3 separate regions of the Homo sapiens genome follow, and all the other regions are linked to region 3. The links come from fine-mapping of genetic effects on gene expression. A gene starts in region 3. Each other region holds a variant in brackets. All regions are shown on one strand. Distances are between the middles of the regions.

What was found.
Region 1: its variant is fine-mapped to the expression of TOX2 in whole blood (INTERVAL, PIP 0.91).
Region 2: its variant is fine-mapped to the expression of TOX2 in whole blood (INTERVAL, PIP 0.97).

Annotation. Positions count from the first base shown.
Region 1 is chr20:43,944,182-43,946,938 of GRCh38, reverse strand. The region is part of intron 1 of TOX2 (TOX high mobility group box family member 2); the gene reads right to left. Among named protein-coding and RNA genes, the nearest start is that of TOX2, 31 kb to the right of the region's middle. The variant A/G (reference allele first, on the strand shown) is at 1,137.
Region 2 is chr20:43,948,741-43,951,497 of GRCh38, reverse strand. All of the region lies in intron 1 of TOX2 (TOX high mobility group box family member 2), which reads right to left. Among named protein-coding and RNA genes, the nearest start is that of TOX2, 35 kb to the right of the region's middle. RefSeq lists an enhancer at 834-923. The variant A/G (reference allele first, on the strand shown) is at 1,087.
Region 3 is chr20:43,913,745-43,916,501 of GRCh38, reverse strand. TOX2 (TOX high mobility group box family member 2) reads right to left here and starts at 1,650. Exons shown (of 9, transcript NM_001098797.2): 1 at 1,512-1,650. The coding sequence starts at 1,610. RefSeq lists silencers at 170-219, 280-339, 1,410-1,499, 1,550-1,659, 1,680-1,779 and 1 more and enhancers at 478-1,195, 1,196-1,913.

The DNA of each region.
Region 1 (2,757 bases), 30 kb before region 3:
GACACACATGCACGAAGCCAGATTTCAACAATGGCTGTGATAAATCAGAGCACGAGAAGAGGTCGGGTCTCCTGGTCTGCTGGGTGCAGCACCATCAACAGCAACAAGCCCCGCCCCCAACCCAGTCAACTCCCATCACCAAGATAGCCTCCCAGGCACAGCTGGGATGGCCCCTTCACGTTAGGTTTCTGCATTTGAAATCTCTGCCACCTATTAAGGGCATGTGTGTCCCCTTAAGTCCCCTTAGTTCCTTTCTCATTTGTTGCTGTCCTTTCTTCTACGAAAGTATGCTGCGTAGAGATCCCAACTGGTTATTTTTTAATGTCCTTACTTCACAAACGGAAAAGGTGGCATTCACCAAATTTGGCAAGAAATTTTTATTGATTCCCCAAACTCCAAAATCTAGTGGAAGAGGCAGCTCGGGTATTCCTGGTGACGTCCTCAGCTGCTTCTCACCCGTCTTGCCTTCTTGGAAGGCCCCTGTCACTCTTCAGCCCAGGTATCTTCTGGGCTCCTCCCAAGCCATGGGCCATCCCCATTACTGCTCCCATTGTTTCCAGTCTGAATCAGCCAGACCCCCCAACCCACACCTGGCCAGGCCTACTGCAGGGTGTGCTGAATGAATGAATGAATGAATGAATGATCCTGAGCAGCCTGGGCACCAAGGCCACAGCCTGACCCTGCTCTCCAGAGGACAGCCCAAACCGCCTCCAGAATTCCTCTCCAAGAAGGAGCTGCCAACTGCAGGCCTCCTGGCCCCTCTAAAGCATCTTCATTCCAGAATGTGACAAGCACCAGTCCAGGTCCCTGCCTGCCCCCATCCAGACATCACCTATCTTCAGCCCACAGTGACGGCCTGACCACCTCCACCTCATGGGGCGGTGGGCACCCGCTGCTTACCTTCTGCGGAAACACACCTGCAATGCACCAGTGTCTTGCAAGTAGAAGGAGCCCGAGTCTCATTCCACAGAAGCCCAGGCAGCGAGAGAACGCGCCCGCGACAGCCTCTGTGCGAGTCTGCTGCATAATCAGCAGAGAAAGAGGAAAAAATGCCAGAAATAGCAAGCTTTATAAGCCCTCCTGACAACTCTTGGTCCTCTATTGGCTGGAGGCCCAGCACCCCCACCCCCCATCCC[A/G]TTCGTATAAGGTGAAATGGAAAAACCTGTTATTTAACCTCTTTTATCAAAATCCATCTCCTATTCCAATTTGGGCCTGCGTGTTCGGAGCTCCTGGTGGCGGTCTCCACGCCAGGTCTCGGGGAGCAGAAGGGGAGGCAGCCCCTAAGTACAGCGCGGCTCCACGTCATTTGTGGCTTAAGAGCCTTCCCCACTCACACACGCTGCCTTGGGAGGGGTGTTGCACTGGAAGAGCCTTCGGAAGGCAAATTGGCAGCACCTGTCAACGTGTGAAACTTGCATGCCCTTTCATTCAGCAATTAGACTTCTGAGCATCCATCCTGCAGAAATACCTGTACTCAGTGCATGGATGCATGCCCAAGGATGTTGCTTGTTACAGAGAGAATTAGAGACAGCTAAATGTCGAAAGCCAGGGTCTGGTTGAATACACTGAAATACATCTGATGGAATGAGGAAGGTGTGTAGGTACTGACTTGGAACTGCCTGCAAGAAAAAGTCAAGGACATGGTTCCATTTTTATAAAAACAATAACGGTGTATATGTATGTGTTTGAACATGCACTATAAAAGATACCAGGCTGTTAATAGCAGTTACACTAGGGAGGAGGAGATATTTTCAGTGGCTGCTTTTTTCTTTCTTGTTTCATTTTTTTTTTCTTTACCACAAGCGTGTATTACATTTGTAATTTAAAACAAAAAAATAAGAACCTCCCCTGGTTCCTTTCCACTCTTCTGAAGCCATCAGGCCAAAGGCCAAGGTCACCCACCACAAGCCTTGATCGGGCTTGGGATAAAGCTGGCCCCGGGCACTAAGGATTAACCAGCAGTCTCTCATTAGCTTTCGCACAAATGCAGTTAAACTAGGGCTCCATGAAGAAGGCAGACTTTGAAATAAGACAGAGCTGGGTTCGAATCCTAGCTCTGCCTGCTGGAATGGCTAACTTCCCTGAGCCTCAGTTTCTTCACCTGTAAAATGGGGATAATAGTACCTATTAAGTGTCATGTACTATGCCAGGTGCTATTAAACTAATTTTAATTTTTTGGACATTTCAGTAGCAGCAAAGGCTGCTGAGGAAGCACCACAGAGCTGAGAGGATCCAGACTAAGCAGGAAGCGCTCTGGGGAATCATCCTATTCCTGAACACTTGTAACAATACTAAAGTAAGTGACAGAGAGAACGGCCTGGGAATAGCAAATGTCATGTGATAAAGGGGGCTGGTGCCCAGCGTGTCTGCAGGAGGAGGGAGAGGCTGGAAGGGGGATTACAAAAGGCTCCAGAAAGGAAAAAAGTCTTGCTTCCCTGCCTCTGTACCTTTTTCATGCTGTTCCCTCTGCCTGGAATGCTCTTCCCCTGACCTTCACACAACTGACTGCTTCTCATCCTTCCAGCTCTGCTCAAAGATCTCCTTCTTCCCCAAAGAGAGCTCCTCTAATCTCACCTGCACCTGAGTTACTTTGTCCATAGCACACTCCTGCAGCCAATCGTTTCTGTTCATGTGTTTGATGGCTTTTGTTTCTGTGTTTATTGTTCTTCTCTAGGCTCTGAGCTTCTTGATGGTCAGGATCGTCTGTCTTGCTCATCTCTGGGTCCTGGCTCCCAGCATGGGGCCTGACACACAGTG
Region 2 (2,757 bases), 35 kb before region 3:
TCGAGTGATTCTCCTGCCTCAGCCTCCCGAGTAGCTGGGATTACAGGTGTGCGCCACCATACCCGGCTAATTTTTTTGTATTTTTAGTAGATACGGGGTTTCACCATGTTAGCCAGGCTGGTCTTGAACTCCGGTACTCAAGTGATCCACCCGCCTCAGCCTCCCAAAGTGCTGGGATTACAAGCGTGAGCCACCACACCGGCCTATCTACTCTATTTTAAAGGTAGAAAACTCAAATACAGAGAGGTAGACGTGAAGGCTATCTACCTAGGAAGTGGTGGAGCTGGGATTCAAACCCACAGCAATGTGGTTCCAAAGCCAAACTCTTAACTACTGCAAGGGTCCCTCCTGAAAGGGACCACAGGCTTCCAGACCCTTCTCTGGCCCCAGACAGCTATCGCCCTGAAGGTCAGCAGGGGCTTCTGGCCAATGCAGGTCAATCATGGGGCCAGAATCCTTAATGACTACGTGAGCCCATCCCTGGGGCCTGGAGCCCAGAAACAAACCCCCCTCACCCCAAAATCTAGCCTGAACCTCTTCTGATTGCTGGGCTGGTTCTTACTCATGTACTCATGCGTCCGTGCACCAAAAAAGTATTTGCTGTGCATCTACTTTGTGCCAGGCACTATTCTGGGATCCTGGGAGACAGCAGTGAACAAAGACCCCTGGAGTTTACGCTCTTGCATTGGAGATAGAAAACAATACACATAGTCAATAAGTGACTTACATGGTATATGGAAAGAAGAAAGAGTTGAGCAGGTGAGGGGTATTGGGAATGTCGAGATGGAGGGTATGCACGTTTAAACAGAGCAGTCAAGGTGGGCCTCATTGAGGAAGTGATAGTGGAGCCAAGACTGGAAGGAGGTGAGGGAGTGAGCCAAGTAGATGTGTTGGGGAGAGCATTCCAGGGCCTGACAGCCTGTGTACAGGCCCTAAGATGGGAGCTGCCGGCAGGTGTGACCTCGGTCAGCAAAGAGACCAGCAAAGACAGGCAGAGCAAGCAGTGGGGAGGGGGAGGGGAGGCCAGAGAGGCAACTGGGGATGGAGTGTGCCCCACAGATGGCACTGAGATTACCCCTCCCCAGA[A/G]AGAGGAAGCCAGCACTTTTTCCACCGGCCTTATCTGATGCTGTGGTTGGGGAGCCAGCGAGGGCAGGCGAGAGGGCTGCAGAGCTCAGCACATCCGAGGAACCTCAGCAGGGCCTCAGAGCCGCTGACATCCGCTTGGCCTGCGGCTTCTTCCTGTGGCTTCTGCATCTCAGGTTGCCCCGATGGCTGCTATTTTTGCTCCTGTTTGGGGTTCTGTGGTGGGCTCGTCTATGCATTGTTGAGTTTGCTCTGCTCAGAGCAGATGTGAGGGGTTAAACATTCCAAGTGTCTTTGGGAACACTTACAATCCAGCAAGTGGGAAAGAGGAGGATGTTTGTTATACATGTCATCTCGTCAATCCTCGTGACCCTCCAAAGCAGAGAGGCTAGGTGGCTTGTCCAAGGTCACAGCCAAATCAAACCAGTTTGAGGATCCTATTCCAGTCTGTCTAGGTCTGAAGGCCCTTAATTTGCAGGGAGGTCTTTTGCATCTACTGCCTAAATTAACATTTCTGTGCTGTCTGGCCTTGCAGCACGTGTGAGAATAAAGGTGCATCATCGTGGGTGATGTCCTCCCAGAGCATCACAGCACTGATGGGGAGGACAATGACAGAAGCGGGCACAGGGAAGGGGACCCTGGCTCTGATAGTTGCGGCTAGACGGTGGGGGCAATCAGAGAAGGCTTCTGGAAAGCCGTGGATGTCGTGACCACACCTGCGAGAATAAACAGGAGTCCAAGGGGTAAAAGAACCATTCCAGACAAAGGGGTCTGAAAGTAAAATTAAGAGGCACAATAGCTTGGTCAGTGGGGAAGCGGATTTAGGAGGTGGCAGGACAGTGATTCTGCAGGAGGCAGAAGCTAGCTTGTGGACTGCAAAAAGTGAGATCAGACAGGTGCCCAGCTCCCCCAGGTGGGTATATTAAAGGTATCAGAACAGATCCAGCTGATTACAAAAGACAACCAACCACAGGCTTTAAGCAGGGAGGGATGTGCGCATCAGGTGGTTCTCAGAGATCCCACTGGCTGCTGCGAGAAGAACAGACTAAGGAGGAAGGGTGGAGGCAGGGAGGCCTGGGAGGAGGCTCCTGCGGTCATCCCGGTGACAAGTAATAGTGAAGCGGGGAGAAGTCATTGCACCCTGAAGGTACAGCCAGCAGCAAGTGCAGTTGGATTAGATGCAAGGAGTAAGGCAGAGAAAGGGGTCAAAGATGATCCCACATTTGTGGCCTAAGCCGAGGGGTGGACAGTCATATATAAAAAGTGGGCACAAAGTAGAAGGGGCATTTTGAGGTGACGGAGGGTGTGAATCAGGAAAAGGGCCATTGAGAGTAACTGTTTCCTTCTAGATGAGCCCCTGGGGTGAGGACATGCAAATCAAAGCTGCCTTTCTACACCAATCCCCCCATGACTAGGGGGCTGCTGCTCCCATGGCCTCAATTGCTCTTCACAGCAAGGAAGACCCAGGGAGGTTAAGTGAGCTGCCTCAAGCCTCACAACTAGAAGTCAAGAGACCAAAGGCTAAAAATCCAGGTCCACCCAATTGCTACTCCAGGCTCATCTCAACACCCAACAGCAGGAGGTTCCCGAGGCCCTCCCTGGAAAATGGCTCCCCAGGCCCAGGAGAAGCTGGAGAATTCACTCCCCATCTCCCCATCTATATTTCATGCCTCC
Region 3 (2,757 bases):
CCACCGCCACTCTTCGCGAGACCTCACTTGTCGCCCACCACCGCCCCACATCGCGCAGGCCCTAGTGGCCTGGATGCTTGCTGCCCCTGGCGAACTGCAGGGAGGCTTTGCCAGAAGCCGCTCCCCTGGGGCCTGAGGGCGCACTCAGGGAGGCCCAGCCCGGGAGGCCCCGGGATCCGCGCCGGGACGCCTCTCTCCTGCCTCATCCCCACTACCAGGGGCCTGACGAAAAGCCTGCGAGGTTGGGGAGAGACCCTGGGGGGCGCCGATCCAGCCACTGGACGCGCACTCACCCCGCATCGCCACGGAGCCCACGCGTCTGCGCCAGGGCTGCGGGAAACCCACGCGCGCTGTTCAATCCGGGCTCCGAGTGACGAAAACCCGCGCTTGGCTCCAGCCGGCCCGGGACCGACGCACCGACTGGCGGACGCGCGGACAGTCTGGCTTCCTAACTAAGTTTGAAAGTTCCCTCTCCGGCGACCGAAGGGGACGCGGACTGCTTAGAGGCACCCAACCCATCCAGGCTGGGCCAGACCCGGCAGTGGGACCTGACGCCTCGGGTTCGGGGTTCCAGGCACGCAAGCCTCCATCACTGGGAATGCGCCCGGCGCAGCGCAGCTGGGACCTGGCTGGGGTGGGGGGATAGATCCTGGAAACATGGAGGAGGGAGGGTGTCCGGCACTACAGCCCCAGCCTGGAGGGACGCCGGCTCACCGCTCCCGGGAGGACACAGGCCTCGATTGGCCGCAGCCTACTCGGAATCCGAGGCCCCGCCAGGCAGTGACGGCCAATTAGTAAACTGCCCAATTAGTGTGCTGCGGCGCTGAGAAGTTAAACCTCGACGCGCGAGTGTGGATGACCGAGGTGTGGCCGTCCCTGGGTGTGACCGCGTGTGACTGTGTGGCCGTCAGGACGATCTGTGTCTGAGGCTCACCGTCCAGGGGGGTGGCTGTGTGTGACAGCGTGCGCCTGGGTGAGGCGTTGTGGCTGCGAGAGTGTGACTGTCGGGCGACTTCTTTGTGTGACTGTCCCCCGTTGTGCCTGGGTGTGACAGCGGGTGGGGGCATGTCACGGTGTGTGGGGCATCGGAGCGTCTGTGGGTGACTCGTCTGTGGCGGTGAGGCTGTTTGCGGGTGAGTGGTTGCGTGTCGTTGTGTATAAGTGACTGTCAGGGTGACTTGCGTGGGACGGCGGGACCGTGTAAGCAGTGCCTGGCCGCCTGCGTGTGGCTGTGGGTCACTGTGACGGCTTGTGAATGACTGCGAGGCTGTCAGGGGGACGCGAGTGAGGGGCCACTGTGTCGTCGCACGGGTGGCTGTCGGGATGACTTCTGCCCGCGATCCCAACAACTCAGGGCGTGAGCGTGGCCGCGAGGGGATCGATGTGAGCCGCCCGTGCCCGTCGGCGGGGCTGATGTGCGCGGCCCCGTGTGACCCCGGGAGCGCCTGAGTCCCGAGCTGCCAGGTGACTCCGGCCCCGCCCGCCGGGGACCCCCGCCCGCCCCCGCCTACCTTGCCGCCGTGGTAATAGTCCAGGTGCGCCAGGCCGGCCGGCTCGGCCCCGGGCCGCGCGCCCACCGCGGGCGCCGAGGGGTACAGGCGGACGTCCATGGCGGGCGCGGCGGCGGCGGCGGCGGCTCCCGCGGGCAGTGCCTGGGCGGGCGGCGGGTGGGAGCCAGTGTGCGAGCGGGACTGCGAGCGCGGGGGGCGGGCCGGGGGCGGTGCCCAGAGGAGCGCCCCGCCCCCGCCCCCGCCCCGCCCGCGCGCGCTATTGTTCCGGCCTCGGGCGCTGCCTAGGGCCGGGGGCCCGGGGGCCCGGGCCGGGGCGTGGAGGTCCTTCCTCCGGGCTGGGCCGCCGCCGGGTCCCCCGCCCGGCCCTGCATCCCTGAGGGGGGCGCGCCTGTCCAGACGGCGCTTTTCCGTCCCGCCTTTCGCCACCCACGGTGAGGAGAGAAGCCCGAACGGCACCCCTCCCCAGAAGTGGGACACTCCCTTGCCCTAAATATTTGAGGCGGCGCTAGTCCCCGCCCCGCGGCGTGGGTGCGGGGGGAAGAGGAAGGTGGTGACAGGACCACTTTGGAGATGGGTGCTGCCTTACCTGGGGGGACGCAGGCCAGCGCCGGAGGATGCTCTTAGCATGCCCGCCCCCTCCTCGTCTCACTGATCTGAGTCAGCTTGACAGCCCCCCCTGGAGATTGCCGCGCTTAAACTCTCACTCACATATGGGGAAACTGAGTCAAAAACTTGCAGCATCAGTAATGGAGCTCCAGGCGGGTGGGCTCCGTTGCCCCCAAAGGATCCAGAGCTGAAACCACTTGGAGAAGGCAGCAGGACCCCACCCCTTTTAATGATAGGGAGGGGAGGGCCGCAGGAATGCCTAGAGCCCGAAGCTCTGAAGAGGGGTCTAGGATCTGCCCACAGTCACGGTCTCTTGGAGTGAGGAAAGGAAGAAAATGAGATTGGAATGGGATGGCTCTGATGGTGGGTCAGAAAGGTGACTGTGAAATGGGGTTCCTCCCCAACCAAAAAAAAAAAAAAAACCCTCTAGTTCTTGATATCACTTGCTGGTTGCTAGACTGTTGCACCCCCATCCCCCTTTTCATGCAAGAATTGTCTACACTAGCAATCTCCCCTAGCAATCTCACTGCTCACTGACTGCTCCAGGTATGTCTGACTGGGAGAGGCCAGGAGGCGAAGTCAGCCAGAATGGCATTCTTGTGTGGCACCAGGATATAGGATGCCATTGGGAGAAAAGGAC